Linked DNA regions of Homo sapiens: region 1 is linked to region 2. The links come from fine-mapping of genetic effects on gene expression. A gene starts in region 2. The other region holds a variant in brackets. All regions are shown on one strand. Distances are between the middles of the regions.

The links. PIP is the estimated chance that this variant, and not a neighbour inherited with it, causes the effect.
Region 1: its variant is fine-mapped to the expression of LINC00324 in NK cells (Gilchrist 2021, PIP 0.95).

Annotation. Positions count from the first base shown.
Region 1 is chr17:8,186,334-8,197,462 of GRCh38, forward strand. It overlaps BORCS6 (BLOC-1 related complex subunit 6), which reads right to left and starts at 3,847. Exons shown (of 1, transcript NM_017622.3): 1 at 2,012-3,847. The coding sequence starts at 3,807. The coding sequence ends at 2,734. It overlaps LOC124903913 (a long non-coding RNA gene), which reads right to left. Exons shown (of 2, transcript XR_007065604.1): 2 at 4,942-6,167. It overlaps TRW-CCA3-3 (tRNA-Trp (anticodon CCA) 3-3), which reads left to right and starts at 25; the gene lies at 25-96. It overlaps TRS-GCT4-3 (tRNA-Ser (anticodon GCT) 4-3), which reads left to right and starts at 533; the gene lies at 533-614. It also overlaps MIR4521, TRT-AGT1-1 and TRI-AAT5-5. RefSeq lists silencers at 6-55, 556-605, 3,099-3,148, 3,219-3,278, 3,479-3,528 and 1 more and enhancers at 3,014-3,660, 3,639-3,918, 3,661-4,306, 6,124-6,223, 9,694-10,003 and 2 more. The variant T/TTATG (reference allele first, on the strand shown) is at 4,996.
Region 2 is chr17:8,216,763-8,227,891 of GRCh38, forward strand. It overlaps LINC00324 (long intergenic non-protein coding RNA 324), which reads right to left and starts at 7,281. Exons shown (of 3, transcript NR_026951.1): 1 at 7,050-7,281; 2 at 5,531-6,512; 3 at 3,868-4,747. It overlaps CTC1 (CST telomere replication complex component 1), which reads right to left. Exons shown (of 23, transcript NM_025099.6): 23 at 8,053-11,129. TRW-CCA1-1 (tRNA-Trp (anticodon CCA) 1-1) reads right to left here and starts at 4,178; the gene lies at 4,107-4,178. It overlaps TRG-TCC3-1 (tRNA-Gly (anticodon TCC) 3-1), which reads left to right and starts at 4,786; the gene lies at 4,786-4,857. It also overlaps TRD-GTC2-11, TRP-CGG1-3, TRT-AGT1-2, TRS-AGA2-6 and TRI-AAT4-1. RefSeq lists enhancers at 3,936-4,822, 4,455-4,604, 5,115-5,254, 5,635-5,834, 6,157-6,898 and 2 more and silencers at 5,515-5,584, 6,045-6,094.

The sequences.
Region 1 (11,129 bases), 30 kb before region 2:
ACCTGAGCTGCCGAGTGGCCGGCCGACCTCGTGGCGCAACGGTAGCGCGTCTGACTCCAGATCAGAAGGTTGCGTGTTCAAATCACGTCGGGGTCAGCGGCTATTTTTCTTCGGTTTTTATTAACCCCCTTTATTTTAAACTACGGTCGAGCTTCAGCGTTCAGGTCATTGAAGAAGCAATATCTCCTTGGGGCCTGAAGGAGAGGGGTTTCTGGAAGTTCCAAGGCCGCCCCGTCTGGACAGCCCAACCATCGCGCGGGGATTTTTGCGATGGATCCGGGTACCGTAATTCTGGGCGGATAACGCGGGTCCTAAGACAGGAGCAGTTCTAGACCTCTCAGCAGAGGGACGAGGGTCGGGCCATCACGCATGGAAGAAGTCGGTCTCTGATCTACGAGTTCTCTTTCCAGTGCCGAGCGGATTCCTTCCAAATGTGCAGCCTTCACGACGTAGGCGAGCCCCACCTGCAGGAAGTTCAGGTTCCAGAGAAGTGAGATGCGGAGGGCAGTCTGAACAGCGAGGGCTGTCTGCAGACGAGGTGGCCGAGTGGTTAAGGCGATGGACTGCTAATCCATTGTGCTCTGCACGCGTGGGTTCGAATCCCATCCTCGTCGGCTAAGGAAGTCCTGTGCTCAGTTTTGTAGCATCAAAACTAGGATTTCTCTTGTTACCCCCAGTCACTCCATTCAGTTTTCGTGTCTTTCCCAGCTGCATCCATCCTTTCCTCATTTTCGTATGCAGCCGACTTTTTGTGACATCTTTGTATTCATTCTCTGCAATTCAGCTGACCTGGCCAAGGAAACAAGATCCTAAGCGTCTTTCCGGCGGCGCCGTGGCTTAGTTGGTTAAAGCGCCTGTCTAGTAAACAGGAGATCCTGGGTTCGAATCCCAGCGGTGCCTCCGTGTTTCCCCCACGCTTTTGCCAACATTAAACATTGTGAGGACAGTTGCAGAAACTCATAACTTCCATCCTACATGGTTTACTCACGTACCCATCTATCCTCTCCCGGTGCATCTGCCACACGCTGTTGGGTTTTTGCTCTTCGTGCACATGGTACTTGCGCCTCGACCTGCAGTTACACCAGTCGCATCATCTGTACTTGCCAGTACTGTCTGTTACTCGTCTAGGTGCTCAGTTAGTCAGTGTTTGTGTTCTGTTTTCATTTCTCATAAAGCAGTCCCACAACTGAAGGTTTTTCCCGAGAGAACTGAACAGTATTGTAACTAAATAGATTTATTTCAAGCTTTTCGTAGCAACTGGCCGGTTAGCTCAGTTGGTTAGAGCGTGGTGCTAATAACGCCAAGGTCGCGGGTTCGATCCCCGTACGGGCCAGGATTGAAACTTTTCGAAAGTACGATTACTGCACTCCGTTTTAGAGCCAAGTAACGTCTCTGGGGAAAAACAGCGCCACATTTCCAATCCCAGAACAGGGAGCGTATTGGAGCGCATTCTAAAGTGGGCGTGTCTTGAGAGGAAGGGATTGAGAGAAACCGGGGTTGTTTCGTGATCTTTGCTTCTACATCTTATGGCCACAATATATGGCTCCTGAACTTACTGTGTGAACTGTAAACAAAAGGCTTTGGGACAAATTTGTCTCAAACCACGTGGCACTGATCTGCAGAGTGTGGGAAATGGTCAGGAATAGAGCTGACAAGTGTTCCCAGTCTTCCCCCAGAGGTAAGATGTCCGTCCAATCCACCCAGCCCCTGCCTATTCATGAGGACCTGAGAAGACAATTTCTTCCCCTTCTCTTCTAGAGCATCTTTTTTACGTTTCTGTGGTTACCGGATCTCTGGGCCCCTGTGAGTGATTATCTGTGTCCTCACATTTCCCCTCAGACCAGATGCTTAAGAGCAAGAACCATATCTTTCCCCACGGAGCCTGAGACATCTCCACCCCCACCCCACTCCCAGCACCAGCCCCAAGGGAGCTGCGTGAACAACACCGACCCTCATTCCCATTCCTTTGGCTTATTAATCACTGCAACCCCACACAGACTCAGCCTCAGCCTTCGCAGCAGCAGCACTTTAATTCCACAAAAACTCAGAAAGCCAAAACTGATTAGAACACTCCACAACAGGTGAGCTTCAAAACCAGCAACATTCTACCTGAACCCTGAGAGCAGTGAGACGCCTCCCACCTCACCCCCTCCGCCGTGCAACCCATTCCTCCTAGCTGCACGCCGGTTCTGGCTGGGGAAGTGGTATGGTAGAGGGCCAGAGGGCAGAAGCAGAAGGCTCTCCATCAGCAGGGGTGCATCTTTGCCTGCGGGGTGTTTGGCCAAGGACGGCACAAGCTCCCACAGCCCCTGGCACCTGAGATGTGGCCACTGGAGTCAGGATAGCCACAGTGGGGGCTGGGGCTTCCTCTGTCCCTTTCTCCTGATTACATGTGGGAGTCACGTCCTCACCTTCAAGCAGACCTAAAGCCCCGTGTTCCCAGGGCTGGTGCTCTAGCTAGGGAGGAGAGTTGGGAAGAACAGGGTAGCTACAGATGGCCAACTGAATACAAGCAGAGCAACATCCCTTCCCACCAGGAGAGCCGTTAGAACTTCCCCACATACACCAGCCTAAGGCCCAGCGAGTGGGCACGGGCCAGCTGAACGCATCTGGAAGAGCCTCCAACACACAGGCCTCCCCTCAGTGGGCACTTCCCACCAGGACTCCCTGAAGAGTCCTTAGGGTCCTGCTGGGCCCTGCCCTGGCCAGGACCGGCCTCTCCTGTCCTCCTGGTCACTTGCACAGGGCCTCCAACACCTCCAGAGTACGTCGGATATCCCGGACTTGGCGCGCCAGCCCCTGAACCGGCTGCAGAGCCCGCTCCAGCTCCTCGCAGCGCGCCAGCAGGGTGTACATGCCCTTGATGCTCATGTCCACGGCTTCACCTAAGGAGTCCACAGCATCGCGGTAGGTCTGGATGCAACCCACGCTCAGCGCCGTCAGCTCCTGCACCGCGCCACCCAGACCGCGAAGCAGACGGTCCACCCGGCCTCCCAGCTCCCGACTCAACCGCTCCAGATCCCGCAGCACCTCGGGGTCGATTGGGGGAATGGCCGGTGTGGGTGTGGGTGCAGGCGCTGGGCAGGGCCGCGCAGGGGCAGAAGGCGGGGGTGGAGGCGCGCCGCTCAGACGGATCTTGAGTTGCAGGTTGTTGGCGACAAAGTGGGTAAGGTCGCCGTGGCGGCTCACTGTGCCTTCGAGCTCCAGGGGACTGGAGATGGTGGCGCGGCGTCCGCCGCCCGCGCCGGACTCGGCACTCCCTGAGGACCCGGCGCCACCGCACGCCTCGCTCAGCCCGTCCAGGCTGCGGCTGTCCTGAAGACGGCTGGAGAACGAGCGGCCGGCTCTGCTGCCCGCGGCCGCCTCCTCGTCGTTGTCTTCCTCCTCCTGCTGCTCAACATCCATCCCGCCGCCTGGTCCCCCTCGACGGCAGTCCCTCCCGGAGGAGGGCTTGCCCTCGGGCGGCGCCGGGTTCTTGTGCCGGGAGGACAGGGAAGGTTCGTGCTCTGCACCCGGCGCCCCCCTGCGGCTCCCGGCCCCAGACAGCGTCCCTTGAGGGCCGGGCTCGTTCTCCAGAGCCTCCCGTTCCGGCCGGTGGACGACGCCGCAGCTTGACGTCTTCGGGGACGTCCTGGGGTGGCGGTTCGCGCCCCCAACGTTCTCGGTCTCTTCCTCCCCGGACACCCGGAGGCCTGCGGGCGGCTCAGAGGACGTTCGGCCCGGCCCGCCGCCAAAGACTAGGGCCTGATGTTCCGCTACAGCCAGAAGGTCCGTCTCGGGCCCGGGCCGCCCCCGAGACGACTCCATACTGCAGGTGGGGGCCGCAACGGAGGAATTGGTTCGCCCCGGCTCCGGAGGCAGTGGCTGCGCCTTTAAGGGGCGTTGGTAGAGGCGAGCCGATTGGCAGCGGCTGACAATGGTAAGGACAGGAAAAGCATTTTGATTGGTCGCGGCGACCAGGAAGTCCCGGAAGAAGAGCTGTTACTGCACAGCGGAACACACGTGAACGCCGGCAGGGTGGAGAGAAGGAGGTGACAGCTGCTCCCGTCGCCCCGCCCTTTCTGAAAGCTGATGGGGCAGATCTTAAAGACCAAGGTCCTCAAATTCCTGAGTCCCGAGGGGTGGGGCTCAGATCCTTTCTGCCTGTAATTGTACCCCCCCCAACAGTGATTGCTTAGCAAAAATACCAAGTGGGGAGCCCACTTGGGGTTCCTAGAGAGGTTCTTAGGATGAAAATGGCATATCCTTCTTGGACCATCAGGGTTGAACCTAGTTGACTAAAAAGAAGGAAACCAGAAGTCCAGCATGAGCATGAATGGTTTGCTCTATCTTTCTTGGTTAAGAGACCTAACCACTGAACTGCTCAGAGCGACCCACTGTGGTCAAGGCAGCGGCCTCTGGGCTTTCCTATGCGTTTGTCACTCTTGTTCTGTGTCTCTTGCCCCTTTCACACTGAGGGGTCTCGCCCCTTGGAGGATGGCGTGTGATTTTGCCACGAGGTAAAATATTCAACAAATGAAATGATCACAAATTTTGATATGTGCTATACAGGAAATAAAGTGTTATGATTGAGAATATAACTGAGCAGGCACTAGTTTAGGTAAGGGGTCAGGAAAATACCTCTTTGGTGAGACTTTTAACTAAAAAGAACCAAAAAGACGCAGCCACCCCCCAGGCAGAGAGAAGAAAACTTGAGCTACCTCTCAGAGACAAAGAAGTCTTGACGTATTCAAGAAACTGAGGTGAGGGGGCAGGAGACATTGGGACTAAAACAAAATCAGCAAGATAAGGGGAAGGATTTCGAGCCAAGGAGCTGAACAGGCAGCAGGGGCCACGTCATGCAGGGGGCCTTGTAGTTCCTGTTAGGGAATGGAGATTTCCTCTAAATGCAATGGTGCAGCGACATTGGAAAGGTTGTACATTGCAACACATAGCCAAAGCTTGGAGACATCAGTATTTTTATTTATTTATTTATTTATTTATTTATTTATTTAT[T/TTATG]TATGTATTTAGAGACAGAGTCCCACTCCGTCACCCAGGCTGGAGTGCAGTGGCGCGATCTCGGCTCACTGCAACCTCCGCCTCCTGGGTTCACGCGATTCTCCTAACTCAGTCTCCCGGGTAGCTGGGATTACAAGCGCCCGCCACCACGCCCGGCTAATTTTGTATTTTTAGTAGAGATGGGGTTTCACCATGTTGGCCAGGCTGGTCTTGAACTACTGGCCTCAAGTGATCCACCCGCCTCGGCCTCCCAAAGTGCTAGCATGACAGGCGTGAGCCACCGTGCCCGGCCAGACATCAGTATTTAATAAAAACAGTTTGCTAACTCTCCTTAGCTGACAAAGGATGTGGTTGTTTTTTCCATTTGGATAGAGAGATGTCTTGAGGCAGTGTCATGCCAGCATTCAGAAGTGCAACTCCCCAGAACTTCCCAGCACTACTATCCCCAGGTGCCTGCCGGGGTCCTAGCCAGCCAACCCTAATGATAGTAGCTCAATCTTTCACCACGCCTGAGGAGTCCACAATTGTCAGCTGTCTGTATCTTATAGTCACCTGCAGCTTGACAAAACCTGTCATTCCTTTGCTCTAAAAAAAAAAACCTAAAAAGCTCATATATAATTGGGCTGGGTAGGTAGATATTCTTTAGAAGATGGGAGGACTTCCCTTGAGAATGGGAAGCTGAGCACAGGAAGAGAGTGATGTGATGGGATTCATGTTTAGGGATTACTGGCTGTTGTAGAAAATGTTTGCAAGGGAGACGGTAGACCAGTGAGGAGGCGGTTCCAAGTACCAGGTGATAGTAGCTCAGCCTAGCACGATGTGGATGGATGCATTCTAGATGTATCTTGAAGGTTTTAGCGGACAAATGGGCTACCCACCGTCTCTCTGTGTAGGGGAAGCTCCTCACTCCTCAACTCCCCATTCCCTGATGTGTTGGTGCAATGACAGCCAGGAACAGGCACGTGACCCAAAACTGGCCAATTAGAGTACTTCATCCTTCTGACTGCAGATTGGCTCAGGGAAGGGCACATGACCCAATGTATGACCAGTAAAAATCCTCCACAGTGTTGTTTGTTTCTAGCTTTGTGGAGAGTGTGAGACGCCTTTCTGTTCTCTTGAGAGCTCAAGCTGGGTATCAGCTTGTCCATCTTTCATGTCCAGGAGATCGCTGTCTGTAGAAGGAAAGAATGAGGCTGATAAGGAAGAGAACCAGAGACAAAAGATGAAGAGGCATGAGTTCTGAGAGCGTTTGAATTCCTGTGCCAGCCTGAAGATAGCCCCACCTTTATCCTTCCTGTGATTTGGTTCCTTGCCCCACCCCTATCGCACCACCTCCCCCGCAAAACCTTGTTTCTTCCTACGGTGACTTCTGTCTCAGTAAGTGGCAACTCCATCTTCCCAGTGGCCAAGGCCAAAAACCCTGGAGTTGTACTTGACTCCTCTTTCTGTCATAATCCATGGCCAATCCTTTAGGAAATCTTGTTGGTTCTGCTCGAAAATACATCCAGAATCTGACCACTTCTCATCCTTACCATTGTTTCTGCCCTGGTCCAAACCACCATCATTTTTGGCCTGGATAAATGAAGTTGCTTCCCGAATGGTCTCACTTCTTCTACCCTCACCTCTCTCTACAGTCTATTTTCAATAGAGAACCAGAATGATCCTTTAAAAATGTAAATTATCAGCAGGGCGCGGTGGCTCACGCCTGTAATCTCAACACTTTGGGAGGCCGAGGTGGGCGGATCACGAGGTCAGGAGATCGAGACCATCCTGGCCAACATGGGGAAACCCCGCCTTTACTAAAAATACAAAAACATTAGCCCGGTGTGGTGGCGCGCACCTGTAATCCCAGCTAATCTGGAGGCCGAGGCAGGAGAATCACTTGAACCCGGGAGGCGGAGGTTGCAGTGAGCCGAGATTGTGCCACTGCACTCCAGCCTGGCAACAGAGCGAGACTCCGTCTCAAAAAAAAAAAAAAAAAAAAAAAAAAAAATTAGCCAGACATGGTGTTGCACACCTGGAGTCCCAGCTACTGTAGAGGCTGATGCGGGAGGATTGCTTGAACCCAGAAGGTTGAATCTGCAGTGAGCTATCATCGGACTATTGCACTCCAGTCTGGGCAACAGAGCCAGACCCTATTTCAAAAAAAGAATTAACTGATTAGGTTAAGAGTTATGCTCCTCCTGGAGCTAGGGATGGGTCAGTTCCTTCCAAATTCAAACAGTTGCGACATAATGGGAAGGCAGGAGGGGCTGTCAGGAGGCTACCACAGTGTCCACTACAGTGGGGTTCAGCAAAGTATAGCCCAAGGGCCAAATCCAGCTCAACACCTGTTGTTATACGGCCATGAGCTAAGAATGCTTTTATGTTTTTATTTGTTTGTTTGAGACAGAGTTTCGCTCTTGTTGCCCAGGCTGGAATGCAGTGGCGCAATCTCAGCTCACTACAACCTCTGCCTCCCAGGTTCAAACAATTCTCCTGCCTCAGCCTCCCAAGTAGCTGGAATTACAGGCATGTGCCACTACGTCTGGCTAATTTTGTATTTTTAGTAGAGATGGGGGTTTCACCATATTGGTCAGGCTGATCTTGAACTCCTGAGATCAGGTGATCCATCTGCCTCAGACTCAGTGCTGAGATTAAAGGCGTGAGCTACCCTGCCCAGCTGTTGAAAATAATCTAGAGAATATGAAAGTTGGCTGGGCACAGTGGCTCACGCCTATAATCCTAGCACTTTGGGAAACCGAGGCGGTTGGATCACTTGAGGCCAGGAGTTCAAGATCAGCCTGGCCAACATGGCAAAAGCCCTGTCTCTACAAAAAGTACAAAAATTAGCTGGGAAGCCGGGCGTGGTGGCTCACACATGTAATCCCAGCACTTTGGGAGGACGAGGTGCGCAGATCACCTGAGGTTAACAGTGCCAGACCAGCCTGACTAACATGGTGAAACCCCGTCTCTACTAAAAATACAAAAATTAGACGCGCATATTGGCGGGTGCCTGTAATCCCAGCTACTCGGGAGGCTGAGGCAGGAGAATCGCTTGAACCAGGGAGGCAGAGGTTGCAGTGAGCCAAGGTCGCTCCATTGCACTCCAGCCTGGGTGACAGAACATTTCATCTCAAAAAAAAAAAAAAATAGCTGGGCATGGTGATGTGTGCCCATAGTCCCAGCTACTCGGGAAGCTGAAGCACGAGAATTGCTTGAACCCAGGAGGCAGAGGTTGAAGTGAGCCAAGGTCGCTCCATTGCACTCCAGCCCGGGCGACAGAACATTTCATCTCAAAAAAAAAAAAAAAAATAGCTGGGCATGGTGATGTGTGCCCATAGTCCCAGCTACTCGGGAAGCTGAAGCACGAGAATTGCTTGAACCCAGGAGGCAGAGGTTGAAGTGAGCTAAGATCACACCACTGCACTCCAGCCTGGGCAACAGAATGAAACGCTGTCTCCAAAAAAAAAAAAAAAAAAAAAATTCAGAGTCTATAAATTTTTATTGGAACACAGCTATGTTCATTCACTTATGTATTGTCTTTTTTTTGTGTGTTGTATTGTTGTTGTTTTTTGAGACACAGTCTTGCTCTGTTGCCCGGGCTGGAGTGCAGTGGCACCATCTCAGCTCACTGCAACCTCCGCCTCCCGGGTTCAAGCGATTCTCTGCCTCAGCCTCCTGAGTATCTGGGACTACAGGCATATGCCACCACACCCGGCTAATTTTTTTATCTTTAGTAGAGACAGGGTTTCACCTTGTTGGCCAGGCTGGTCTCAAACTCCTGACCTAAGATGATCTGCCCAAAGTGCTAGCATTACAGGCATCAGCCACAGTGCCTGGCCTCCAACAGCATTTTATTTTATTTTGTTTTATTTATTTATTTATTTTGAGACGAAGTCTCACTCTGTCGCCCAGGCTGGAGTGCAGTGGCATGATCTCGGCTCACTGCAAGCTCTGCCTCCCGGGTTCATGCCATTCTCCTGCCTCAGCCTCCCCAGTAGCTGGGACTACAGGCGCCCGCCACCATGCCCGGCTAATTATTTGTATTTTTAGAAGAAACGGGGTTTCACCGTGTTAGCCAGGATGGTCTCGATCTCCTGACCTCGTGATCCACCTCGCCCCACCTGGCCCGCCTCAGCCTCCCAAAGTGCTGGGATTACAGGCGTGAGCCACTGCGCCCAGCCCCCAACAGCATTTTAAAATATTATTTTTAGAAAGTAAAAATTTCTATGTAAGGGCCAGGCACGGTGGCTCACATCTGTAATCCCAACACTTTGGGAAGCCGAGGCCGGTGGATCACCTGAGGTGAGGAGTTAGAGACCATTCTGGCCAACATGGTGAAACCCTGTCTCTACTAAAAATATAAAAATTAGCTGGGTGTGGTGGCGCATGCCTGTAATCCCAGCTACTCGGGAGGCTAAGGCAGGAGAATCACTTGAACCTGGGAGGTGGAGGTTGCAGTGAACGGAGATCATGCCATTGCACTCCAGCCTGGGCAACAAGAGTGAGACTCCATCTCAAAACAAACAAACGAAACAAAACAAAACAAAACAAGATGTCTATGTATATTAATGCAATTGGGAACAGCCCATGTTATACGTAAGAAATGACTGTTATTTCCATCTTAAAGACTCACAAAAGGCCAGGCGCAGTGGCTGGCTGGGTGCCGTGGCTCACGCCTGTAATCCCAGCACTTTGGGAGGCCGAGGCAGGTGGATCACTTGAGGTCAGGAGTTCAAGGCTGGTCTGGATAACATGGTGAAACCCTGTCTCTATTAGAATCGCTTCAACCCAGGAGGCGGAGGTTGCAGTGAGCTGAGACAGCGCCACCACACTCCAGCCTGGGTGACAGAGTCTGTCTCAAAAAAAAAGACTCACAAAAATACAAAAATAACTTGGCCAAGGTCACATGGCTAATAAGCAATGGTGAAGGAATTCAAAGTGAGACATGCTGACTCAAAGTGAAAGCTCGATCATCCACAGGTCTCACCCCTCCATAGGCCACAGTAGGGGTGGGGGTCAGATTACCCACCCTCAATGTTGCCAGTGCCCACATTACTTCACAGAAGTAGAGAGAAGTTATCTGCCGACCTATCAGGGGAACAAGCAAGGCTGGATATCTTTTCTGCTTTCTTTTTTTGGCATCATCCATTCAGTGGGAAGGTAAGGTGATCATCAAGTCCCAAAAATGAACAAATGCCCCAGTCAGCTATGCTCAGCATTTAGAAGAATGTCAACTAGGACAGTTTTCTCCCCATACCCCAGGGCATCAGCCCTTGTATTGTCTGTAGGGCTTGTTGAGTGGGATGGGGGTGGAATGCAGGTTTTATGTGGCATGTAGAATTATGCCATGGTTTTACATTACATTTGGGGATGGCTCTTGCTCTGGATACTTGGAATTTTCACGTGTGAGGAGATGATGTCTTTGTTTTCTTTTCTTTTTTTTTTTTGAGATGGAGTTTCCCTCTTGTTGCCCAGGCTGGAGTGCAATGGCCCAATCTTGCTTCACTGCAACCTCCACTCCCGGGGTTCAAGAGATTCTTCTGCTTCATTCTCCCAAGTAGCTGGGATTACATGCACCCGCCACCACGCCCGGCTAATTTTTTTTTTTTTTTTTTTTTTTTGTATTTTTAGTACAGATGGGATTTCACCATGTTGGCCAGGCTGGTCTTGAACCCCAGACCTCAGGTGATCCACCCGCCTCGGCCTCCCAAAGTGCTGGGATGACAGGCATGAGCTGCCGCGCCCAGCCGAGGTCAGAGCTTTAGTGATGGAAGTGGAAGAGCAGTTACAGAGGAGCATCCATTGGTGGGGAAGGACCAGAACTCTTAGGGAAGGGCTTCTGAACCCCTCAGAACCACCTGGGGAGTTAAAAGCGACATGGATGCTCCAGCCTCAACCCAGATCAATGAAATCTGAATTTGTTAGGGCAAGGCCTGGGAGTTTTTTGTTTTTTGGTTTTTTTTTTTTTGAGACGGAATCTCGCTCTGTCGCCCAGGCTAGAGTGCAGTGGCACGATCTCAGCTCACTGCAAGCTCCGCCTCCTGGGTTCATGCCACTCTCCTGCCCCAGCCTCCTGAGTAGCTGGGACTACAGGCACCCACCACCACGCCCAGGTAATTTTTTTTTGTATTTTTGGTAGAGACAGGGTT
Region 2 (11,129 bases):
GGTCTCGCTATATTGCCCAAGCAGGTCTCGAACTCCTGGGCTCAAGCTATCCTCCCACCTCTGCCTCCATGAGAGCTGGGATTACAGGCATGAGCCACCACGCCCGGCCTTATTATTATTATTTTGAAATGGAGTTTCACTCTTGTTGCCCAGGCTGGAGTGCAGCAGTGCAATCTCAGTTCACTGCAACCTCTGCCTCCCCGGTTCAAGCGATTCTCTTGCCTCAGCTTCCCAAGTAGCTGGGATTACAGGCGCCCGCCACCATTCTGGCTAATTTTTTTTTTTTTTTTTTTTGAGACACAGTGTTGCTCTTGTCGCCCAGGCTGGAGTGCAATGGGGTGATCTTGGTTCACTGCAACCTCTGCCTCCCAGGATTACAGGCGTGGGCCACCATGCCTAGCTAATTTTTGTATTTTTAGTACAGACAGGGGTTTCCTCATTTTCACCAGGCTGGTCTCGAACTCCTGACCTCAGGTGATCCACCCACCTTGGCCTTCCAAAGTGCTGGGATTACAGGCGTGAGCCGCCACACCCATCCAGGAATACACTTTAAAGGCACTTGTGTGACTGCTATTAAATTAGTCAAATCTTAACACATTTTGCTATATTTGTTTATGATGTTTTTTTAAATGAACTAAAAGGCATACAGGTGGAGTTCCAGTGTAAAATTTCTTTTTTTTTTTTTTGAGACGGAGTGTCGCTCTGTCCCCCAGGGTGGAGTGCGGTGGCGCGATCTTAGCTCACTGCAAGCTCCGCCTCCCGGGTTCACGCCATTCTTCTGCCTCAGCCTCCCTAGTAGCTGGGACTACAGGCACCCGCCACCACGCCTGGCTATTTTTTTTTTTTTTTTTTGTATTTTTAGTAGAGACGAGGTTTCACCGTGTTAGCCAGAATGGTCTCGATCTCCTGACCTCGTGATCCACCCGTCTCGGCCTCCCAAAGTGCTAGGATTACAGGCATGAGCCACCAGGCCCGGTCAGTAAAATTTCAAGAAGTAGGCCGGGCGCTGTGGCTCATGCCTGAAATCCCAGCACTTTGGGAGGCCGAGGTGGGTGGATCACGAGGTCAGGAGATCGAGACCATCCTGGCTAAGACGGTGAAACCCCGTCTCTACTAAAAATACAAAAAAAAAATTAGCCGGGCGTGATAGCGGGTGCCTGTAGTCCCAGCTACTAGGGAGGCTGAGGCAGGAGAATGGCGTGAACCCAGGAGGCGGAGCTTGCAGTGAGCCGAGATCACGCCACTGCACTCCAGCCTAGGCGACAGACAGAGACTCCGTCTCAAAAAAAAAATATTTTCAAGAATTAGGTCTAGGTATATTGTTTCTCTACCATTTTCTTCTGTGGTTGTTATGGATGAAATTGTGTTTCTCCAAAATCCATATGATAAAGCTTTAACACCCAATGTAAATGTATTTCTAGACACAGCTTTAGGGAGGTAGTTAAGGTTAAATGAGGTCATTTGAGTGGAATCCTAATCCTACAGGGCTGGCATCCTTAGGAGAAGAGGGAGAGACTCCAGAGTTCTCTCTTTCCCTGTCGGCACAGAGGAAAGGCCATGTGAGGACACTGCAAGAAGGCGGCATGTAGAAGCCGGCAAGAGAGGCCTCAGCAGACACCAACCCTGATAACATCTTGATCTTGGACTTTGAGCCTCCAGAACAGTGAGAAAATAAATATCTGTTGTTTAAGCCACGCAGTCTACGGCATTTTGTTATGGTAGCCTGAGCAGACTAATACAGATTCTAAGGTCAGTGGAAAACTACAAGCGGAAGCACTCAGTTCAGATAGGACTACTAGTGGCTTAGACCCTTCAGGAACAAGGTTTGGGTCTCCCTACGAGGGAAATAACCAGGACCAGTTGAGGGGCTTGTTGAAGACAATGGGAAGACAAAATGGGTAATAGAAGAAGCTAGTTAGGCCAGGTGCGGTGGCTCATACCTTTATTCCCAGCATTTTAGGGGGCTGAGGCGGGAGGATCACCTGAGGTCAGGAGTTCGAGACCAGCCTGGCCAACATGATGAAACCCCGTCTCTACTAAAAATATAAAAAAAAGGCTGTGCACAGTGGGTCACGCCTGTAATCCCAGCACTTTGGGAGGCCGAGATGGGTGGATCACCTGCACTCTACTGCACTCCAACCTGAGTGACAGAGCGAGACTCCATCTCAAGAAAAAAAAAAAAAAAAAAGAAGCAGCAGCAGCAGCAGCAGCTAGTTATCAGCTACCACTACGTGGCCAGTTAGAGAAACAAGGACTGTAAGTGTATTTCCTTTTTTTTTTTTTTTTTGAGACGGAGCGTCAATCTGTCGCCCAGGTTGGAGTGTAATGGCATGATCTCAGCTCACTGCAACCTCCGCCTCCCAAGCTCAAGTGATTCTCCTGCCTTAGCCTCCTAAGTAGCTAGGATTACAGGCATGTGCCACCATGCCTGGTTAATTTTTTTTGTATTTTGAGTAGAGACGGGGTTTCACCATGTTGGCCAGGCTGGTCTCAAACTCCTGACCTCAGGTGATCTGCCCACCTCGGCATCCCAAAGTGCTGGGATTACGGGCGTGAGCCACCACACCTGGCTGTATTTCTTCTTTATTTTGTTACGAATATATCTGTGTGTGTGTTTCAGCTAATAAATGTACACAAAATGATAGAATTAGGAAATGATCATTTTGCATCTCCTTATGAAATAATTAATGCAGGCAAGGTTTTCTGGTTGCCCTGGCAGTGAGAATGGTGGTGGGACTGCTTGGTAGCCAGCCTCACAGCCAGCTCCGCCTTAGGTCGCCAGAGTTTCTATGCTGTTACCTTGCTCAGGTCATCAGCAGTTCTTCAAGCACCATTTCTGCAAGGACTGGTCAACTGTCTGCCTTTGTCTTGTACATAGTGATACAGTGACACAGAGACAGCTATGGCAGAAGGTGGGCAGGGGCAAGAAAGGGGAAGGAAAGCGGAGCACAGATTTTAACCTGGGCAATGTCTGCTGTGTGGATGGTGGTGAGATGGCCCAAATTCTTCCCCATCAACCAAAGCCAGTCACACTTAGAAAGGTATTGTTAGTGGAGGAGAGAGAGGTGAAGGGAATAAATTTCCCATTGGAAAAGACAAGGCATATAGGGTGGGTGGCCTGGATTTCTTTCTTTCTTTTTCTTTTTCTTTCTTTCTTTTTTTTTTTTTTTTTTTGAGAGAGAGTGTCCCTCTGTCGCCAGGCTGGAGTGTAGTGGTGCCAATCTCCGCTCACTGCAACCTCTGCCTCCGGGGTTCAAGCGATTCTCCTGCCTCAGCCTCCCAAGTAGCTGGGACTACAGGCATGCGCCACCACGCCCAGCTGATTTTTGTAGTTTTTAGTAGAGACGGGGTTTCACCAAGTTGGCCAGGATGGTCTTGATCTCTTGACTTCGTGATCTGCCCGCCTGGGCCTCCCTAAGTGCTGGGATTACAGGCGTGAGCCATCCCATCCCACCGGTTTTGTTTTTCAATATACTGGAAGCAGCCAAAATGCACGTGGTCCTGGGCTTCTAGTGACTGCTGGGAAGTCTGGAGAAAGGTAATATTTGTATTTAATATCCTTGTGTTCAGTGTTAAGTAAACATACCTAGAACAGCAGAGATTATTAAAAACATTTAAAAAGGCCGGGCACAGTGGCTCACGCCACTAAAATACAAAATTATCCGGGCGTGGTGGTGCATGCCTGTAATCCCAGCTACTCGGGACGCTGAGGCAGGAGAATCCCTTTGAACCCGTGGGCGGAGGTTGCGGTGAGCCGCGATAGTGCCATTGCATTCCAGCCTGGGCAACAAGAGAGAAACTCCGTCTCAAGGGAAAAAAAAATACAAACAAAAAATAATAATTTAAAAAATTATTTAACAATTTCCATACAACAGGGAATTTTTTTATTTTTAAATTTATTTTTACTTTTATAGACCTTAGGGATACATGCGCAGTTTTGCCACAGGGATATATCACATAATGTTGAAAGTCTGCACCCAACTTCTGAATAACGTTCATATTTGTCTCATTCCCCTCCTATCCTTCTACTGAGGAGGCTTTTTTTTTTTCCTATCCTGAAAAATGTCACCGTAGGTCTATTTGATTAGGGAAAACAATGTTTTGTTTGACCCCGACGTGATTTGAACACGCAACCTTCTGATCTGGAGTCAGACGCGCTACCGTTGCGCCACGAGGCCTGTCCAACAGCGTGACTTGATGGGTCTGTTGAGCAGCAATAACGGGCGGACTTTTGTCATGAAGCCCCACCTTTAAGATTTGTCAGCGCATTTCTCTGAGGCACCAGCTGACGAGATGTGGGCGCATGTACGTAGGAATTAAATTCATCCTCTGGATAAATAATAGAGAGGCAAGTTGCGTTTAGGCGCATTTGGCTTAAGGCCCAATTCCTTAACTGGAATCACATTGAGCTCGTTGAGCTCACTCTACAGAGAAGCCATTTTTATGTGTCTAGGCCTTTTTTTTTGTTTTCTGGAGATGATAAATCATGGTGTCGCTGCAGTTCTCGCCCCCTGGACAAATCTTAGACGTAATCCCAGCTCTGCCGGTGACTCAGCTTCCCTGGATCTTGGTTTCCTCGTCTGTAGACTGGGCATAACCCTACAGGTTCATGTGGGGTGGGTGGCGCGCGCTAGCGGTGAAGGTCACTCACAATTGCGCGCTGGGCAGACGACGGCAGCCATTACTTTTACCTCGATCGCTGTTTTCCTGGATCCGCACGGGTCCAACCCGACTCATCCCAACCAACCTGAGGTATGAAAACCAGGAAAGAGAGCTAGCACCGGAGCGTTGGTGGTATAGTGGTAAGCATAGCTGCCTTCCAAGCAGTTGACCCGGGTTCGATTCCCGGCCAACGCAAGTCGTTTTGGGTGTTTTTTCCCCCCCCCGCCTTTTCCTTTTCGTGTTTTCTGGGCCCCAGCATCGTTGAGGGTTTTCGTGAGGTTTTCCTGAGGAAACTTCCGCTCCGAAAGGACCCACTTTCCGCTACACCCGCGACCACGGCTGGACCACCGCGCTCCTGACGGATGCGCCCTGCAAGCCCCTCCAGGCGAGAGCAGCGCGTCGGAATCTCGGCCCGGGGTTGCCTACTGTTCCCGGATCGCAGTGCGAATCCACAAAAAGCAGGGAGGCGAAAGGAAACAAAAGCCCGGGCTCTGCACCCTGGACGGCTGGGGGCCAAAGCTACTTGCCCAGGTTCAAGCAGAGACTGGAAATGCGCACTTCCGTCAAGGAGGGAGCAAGCTAGGCCAAGTCTGAGCGCTAATGAGCATACTGAGCAGAGCAGATAATGGCCACTTTAGGTACACGTTTGAACTCTAAGTTGCTTGAAGTAAAATGGAAACTTAGAATGCGAGCTGGAGAGGAAGGCCAAACTCTCCTCCCCTCCTCCTTTCCCTCTTTTTTATAGCTCCATCCCAGGGACCAGGACGGATTTAATGAAAGCAAAAAGATAGAAGTTTCAAAACTGCTAGTACTCTCCCCGTCGGGGAATCGAACCCCGGTCTCCCGCGTGACAGGCGGGGATACTCACCACTATACTAACGAGGAGGGACCTGTAGAGACCTTTCTCCGAATCCTTGATCTGAGACTTTACACTCTGCGTGCTGACAGCAGGGTTCCTAGGGGTTCTGTTCTTCCAACCACTGATAAACGCTGACCAGAAACCGTAGGTGTATTTCAGGCACCAATCGTCAGATGGAGTGACCGAAAGAGACAGAGTGCCTTCAGGACTGCAGAGAACCAAGTTTTGACAGTTCCTGGGCTCTCCCGAACACTGTCATCCACAACTATAGATTGACGCGTGTCAATCAAAGCGAAACCAGGCTGTGGTGGCCGAGTTGAGACACCAGGAAGGAAGTCAGGAAGCAGAAAGGGAGGGACCTGCCCAAGTCTGGGCGTGCCTCGTCTCTTCCTGACATGCCAGGCGGGTCTGGGGATTGAGATGCTTTCTGCTACCGCGGTGCCACAAAAGAGCTTACTGTACATTGATGACTTACAGTCAAGCCTCCTGCAGCGCTGGTCAGGTAACCTATTCCTTGAAGACACTCTTGTCTCAGTAAAAGGTAAAGGAGGGCTCGTCCGGGATTTGAACCCGGGACCTCTCGCACCCGAAGCGAGAATCATACCCCTAGACCAACGAGCCGACGTGCGGACGTTGCCGCGAACCGCCTTAGAGGTCGTGCCAGGCTTGCTGTAGTGCTGGGTCCACTATGCATGGCGGAACGGTCCGGGCGCACGCTCACGGACCAGCCTCCCCCAGGCCGAGTATTTTGGAGCACTGGGCTGGGAATCTCTTGGCTCCGGGCCGCGAGCTCCGGCTCCTCCCAGGAAATAGCGTCAAGGAAGTGGGAGGGAGTGGCCTCGGCCTCGCCCCCGCGCCGCCTTGCACGACTGCCTTGAACACCCGGGTTGTTGCTTCCTTTGGTTACCGACTTGGTGCCATTCCGTAACCTGGGATCTTGACACTTCCTGCCTCCGCCTGCGGTCCTTGGACCTAGCTCTTCGTTGCAGAGCTTTGAAGAGAAGCGGTGGAATTGCTTGCTTTCGGGACGGGCAGGAGAAATCACTAGGGGAACACCAGTGCCCCGTGTCTGTCTATCCTCCTGGGCTAACGGGCAGGGCAAACCCTGGGCCAGACCCATCGATAGTCCACGGGTTCCCCAGACCGCATGGCAGTACCCAAGCGAGGGAAAGAGGGAACGATTTCTGGGGCCCAGAAGACCCACGGAAGAGGGCGTTATTGAGCTGGGTGACTGGAGGGGGACAGGCTTTCCACCCTGCAGTGGGGCGGGGCGCAAGGCCAGGCGACTAGTCTCATGGCTTCCGGACTGTAAGATCAGGTTACCCCTACCCTACAGTCTAACCTCTGCTCCCCAGTCCCCTCCTAGAATGGCCTAGAAGGGAGACCCTCCTGCCTGCCTCCTAAGACCCCCCGAAGGCTCTGAGGCACGTGGCCGCATGAATGTGGTCGAAGGCCTGTAGACCCGGTTTGGGGACTTAGCAGTGTCCCCGGGACTGCCCAGTGAGCCTCTGCGCTCTTAAACACTCACCATGCTGCTCTTACTCCGGAGCTGCCCAGAGTCCCAGCAAGATCTGGTGGGGTCGGTAGCAGACCACGTGTCCTGCCTTTCCTCAGCTCAGTGCCTGTTCTGGGGAGTCCTCCCAGCGGGGTTCTGGCCTGCATCGGCCCTGGACCAGCCTGGTGTCATCTGTGGAACCATTTTGTTCTACACCCCAGTTGTGTGATTTGTGGGGCCAGGCCGTTCCTAATGCCCAACCCATAGATACGATGACGGGGCTTTCAGTGAAGGATTCAGCTCCTATTTGTCTTTCCCAGGTTCCCCTGGACAGACAGTGGGGAAGGGCAGCAGAAGTTAGCCCAGCCTTTCCCATTAGTGTCCCAAGTCTTTGAGATGGGTAAAGAGGTTCTCAGGGCTGATCTGGCATCTCCTCCCCCATTCCTACCCTTTTCCAATTCCTGTCTCCCTCCCCTTGGGCCCCAGCTTTCTCTGCAAAATAATCCAGTCACCTCTTCCCTGGCCTCAGGCACTTAAACGCTGCAGAAGGGGAGGCCTAAATCCTTTATGACCCTTATGAAAGCTATGTCCCTCTTCACCGGGCACAGTGGCTCACACCTGTAATCCCAGCACTTTGGGAGGCTGAGGTGGGTGGATCACAAGGTCAGGAGTTCAAGACCAGCCTGACCAAAATGGTGAAACCCCGTCTCTACTAAATATACAAAAATTAGCCAGGCGTGGTGGCGGGCGCCTGTAATCCCAGCTACTCGGGAGACTGAGGCAGGAGAATTGCTTGAACCCGGGAAGCGGAGGTTGCAGTGAGTCAATATTGTGCCATTGCACTCCAGCCTGGGTGACAGAATGAGACTCCCTCCGTCTCAAAAAAAAAAAAAAAAAAAAAAAGCTATGGCCCTCTTCCTAAACATGTATACAATCCAGGGAGTTCACACATAATCCCATCCACATACCCCACACTTTATTTTTTCCTCAGAAAAGTGCGTACATAGACCCCACTTTTAATAACCAAGAACTAACAAACAGCTGATCATTCGTTTATTTTATTTCATTTTTTTGAGACGGAGTTTCACTCTTGTTGCCCAGGCTGGGATGCAGTGGCGCGATCTCGGCTGACAACACCTCCTCCCCCCTCCAAGGTTGAAGCGATTCTCTTGCCTCAGCCTCCCAAGTAGCTAGGACTGCAGGCGCCTGCCACCACGCCTGGCTAATTTTTTGCATTTTTAGTAGAGACGAGGTTTCACTATGTTACCAGGTTTCACTATGTTGGCCAGGCTGCTGGTCTGGAACTCCTGACCTCGTGATCCGCCCACCTTGGCCTCCCAAAGCGCTGGGATTACAGGCGTGAGCCACCGCGCCCGGCCATACATGGCAAGTTTCTACATGGTGTTTCAGACTTAGCTGATCACCCTCTACCCTCAGGCCAGATTAGATTCCACTTCTCCCTGTTCTTACAGTGCCGTTAGTGCTGAAAGGGGAACGTGCCTTGTTCATTTGGTTCTGCACAGGGTCCAGCCCAGTGCTTGGCACAAACGTGGTCTCGGCAGTGCTGCATCCCTGGCTTGACCTGGAGGTAGCAATTCCTTCAAGCCATTTGCTCATCTTACATTGGTTCGTGGGCCATGGAATGGTGTCGAGAGCTTTCTGCCTATCTTCCAAGGAGGTTTAGGTCCTGCCAAGAGCTCACAGATCCTATTTCTTGCCTTATCTCTGGCATTTATTTCTTCCTTAACCAGCCTAGCTTCAGTGCTCCAGAAAAGTGCCCTGCCCTTCCACACCAGGATCCCTAGCGACTCCCGAATGATGCTTTCTTGGACTCTGTTCACATGGCCTCAGCCCTTCTGCACCCTGCTGCACGAAACCTGGTGCCAGGCCAGGCCAGGCCAGCCGGATCCCTGCTTACTCCTTACCCTGACATCCCGCTGGTGGAGAGGGATGGAGGTAACTGCAAGTGAAAGACCAGTTAGAGGACCGCATCTGGAAGCTGTGCCAAATTTTAAATACTGTATATTTAAATATATATTTTTATATTATATACTATATATATAACATTATGAGCCACCAAACCCAAAGAACTATAATGAAGAGCCAAACAAAACAAAGTGGCTCAGGTTCTAGGGGACGTCCTAGGGTGGAGAAAGAGGCCTGGAAGGTGGGCAGCCCCTTCCATCGAGGGTGGGGCGGCCGCCTGACCCAGTCCACCTGCACCAGTGGGGTGTGGCATCAGTTAAGCAAAGGACCCTTAGGCCTATGCAACATTTCTGCCCCTAAGTTAGAGAACCACCTTTTAGAGTGGCGATCTCATGGGAGTGGCAGCTTGACTCTGCAGGAAATGTGGGTGCTATGAGTGCAGAACAGAAACTCTTACGCGTTCTGATATAAAAACAATACATGAAAGGATGTGGATTTAGCCGCAAAATCACGCTGTTTCAATTGAATAAAGGCACCGCTGGGATTCGAACCCAGGATCTCCTGTTTACTAGACAGGCGCTTTAACCAACTAAGCCACGGCGCCGAAGCTGCCATAAAGGTTCCTGAAATTCATCTACAAGAATATAGAGCTAGGAACCCGGACCGAGCTTTTTCAGATCTTTCTAGAACTAATTTGGTAACTCAACTGGCTCTTGCATCACTTGTCCATTCCTCGGATTTCCTTCAATGTCCAAAGACGTTAATCATAGATTTCAAACCAAAATCATAGACTCTAAATCAAATTCTCGATTCTAGAGTTCCTAGATGAGAGGTTTGGAGGGTGCCGACTGGATCATCCCATCCTGGAGAGAAATATGGTCAGTATGCTGAAGAAAAAAATATGACGTAGTCGGCAGGATTCGAACCTGCGCGGGGAGACCCCAATGGATTTCTAGTCCATCGCCTTAACCACTCGGCCACGACTACGAGGCTTAGGGCTTCGTTTTCATCCAATGCCTTTCTTACTTCCCTTGACTGACAAACATCTGCCTCCATGAAAGCGCTTCAGGGAAAAAAAGACGCGGCGGTTGCACGTGAACCTTCCTTTCACCCGGGTGCCCAGAGACTCCTCCCTCCAAGCCTTCGGGAGCGCTAGTGATTCAGGGAATAGGAAGCAGTAGGTGCAATATAATTCTGTTACCAGAAGGCAACTGGCTCCGGGTAGAAACTTCCGGATAACAGCAGAGGGTCAGAAAACAAAACACACACAAAAAAAAGCCACCCACTGGCCCGTACGGGGTTCGAACCCGCGACCTTGGCGTTATTAGCACCACGCTCTAACCAACTGAGCTAACCGGCCACTAACTTTCCGGGTCTACTTCAAATCTTAATATAGGGTATTGCTACCATAAAAGCAGCATAAATCCCAACATATGGGTTTAACCACGCTCTAAAGGTCTCCCAAACACGAACAAATCCTAACAGCCAGGAAGAAATGGCCTCCCAGTAGCTCTGAAAGATGTGCCTCAGCTCATCTTTCCACCTCTCCATCTATCAGTCCCCAGTAAAGAAATGCAGCAACACCAGCCAAAGGCATTGGTATCTCCAAAGAATTGTTCCTAGATCCCCTAATTGTACGGTTGTGATTTCGGAGCACCTTCTGGTCTCAAGGTATATCGATCAAGGATCTGCCTTAGGCCAGGCCCTTGGGAAACCTACAGGGCTAACCGTAGCCTGGGGCCCTATAGCACAGTCACCCAGAGTCCTCACCTGCCCCTGCTTGTGCCTGGCACTTGCCTCCCCCTACACCTTCTTTGTGCTTGTGAACACCTCTAGGCATTCATATTTGACTTCCTGCAGGGCCCAGCCTTACTGACTGAGACCATCATAGCTATGCTCTCTGCCTTGCCGCCAACTCCCCAATTTACTTCCTTTACAGACTGATTTTGGTACCATTTCTTCTGCTGGACGAAAAGCTCTTCTCTTCCAAATCACTTTCCACCTTTGGCCCTGGCGGCAAAGGGCTGAAATGATGATGAACGACTAGGAGTTCCTAGGAGGTGGACAACTAGGAGTCAGGAGGCCTGGGACCCCAGAGATGAGTACCAGTGAGAAATGACACCAGAGGGCTTCATTGCAGGTCAATAGGCCTGTCACCATCACCCCACAGCGAGCAAGTCTTTTGTT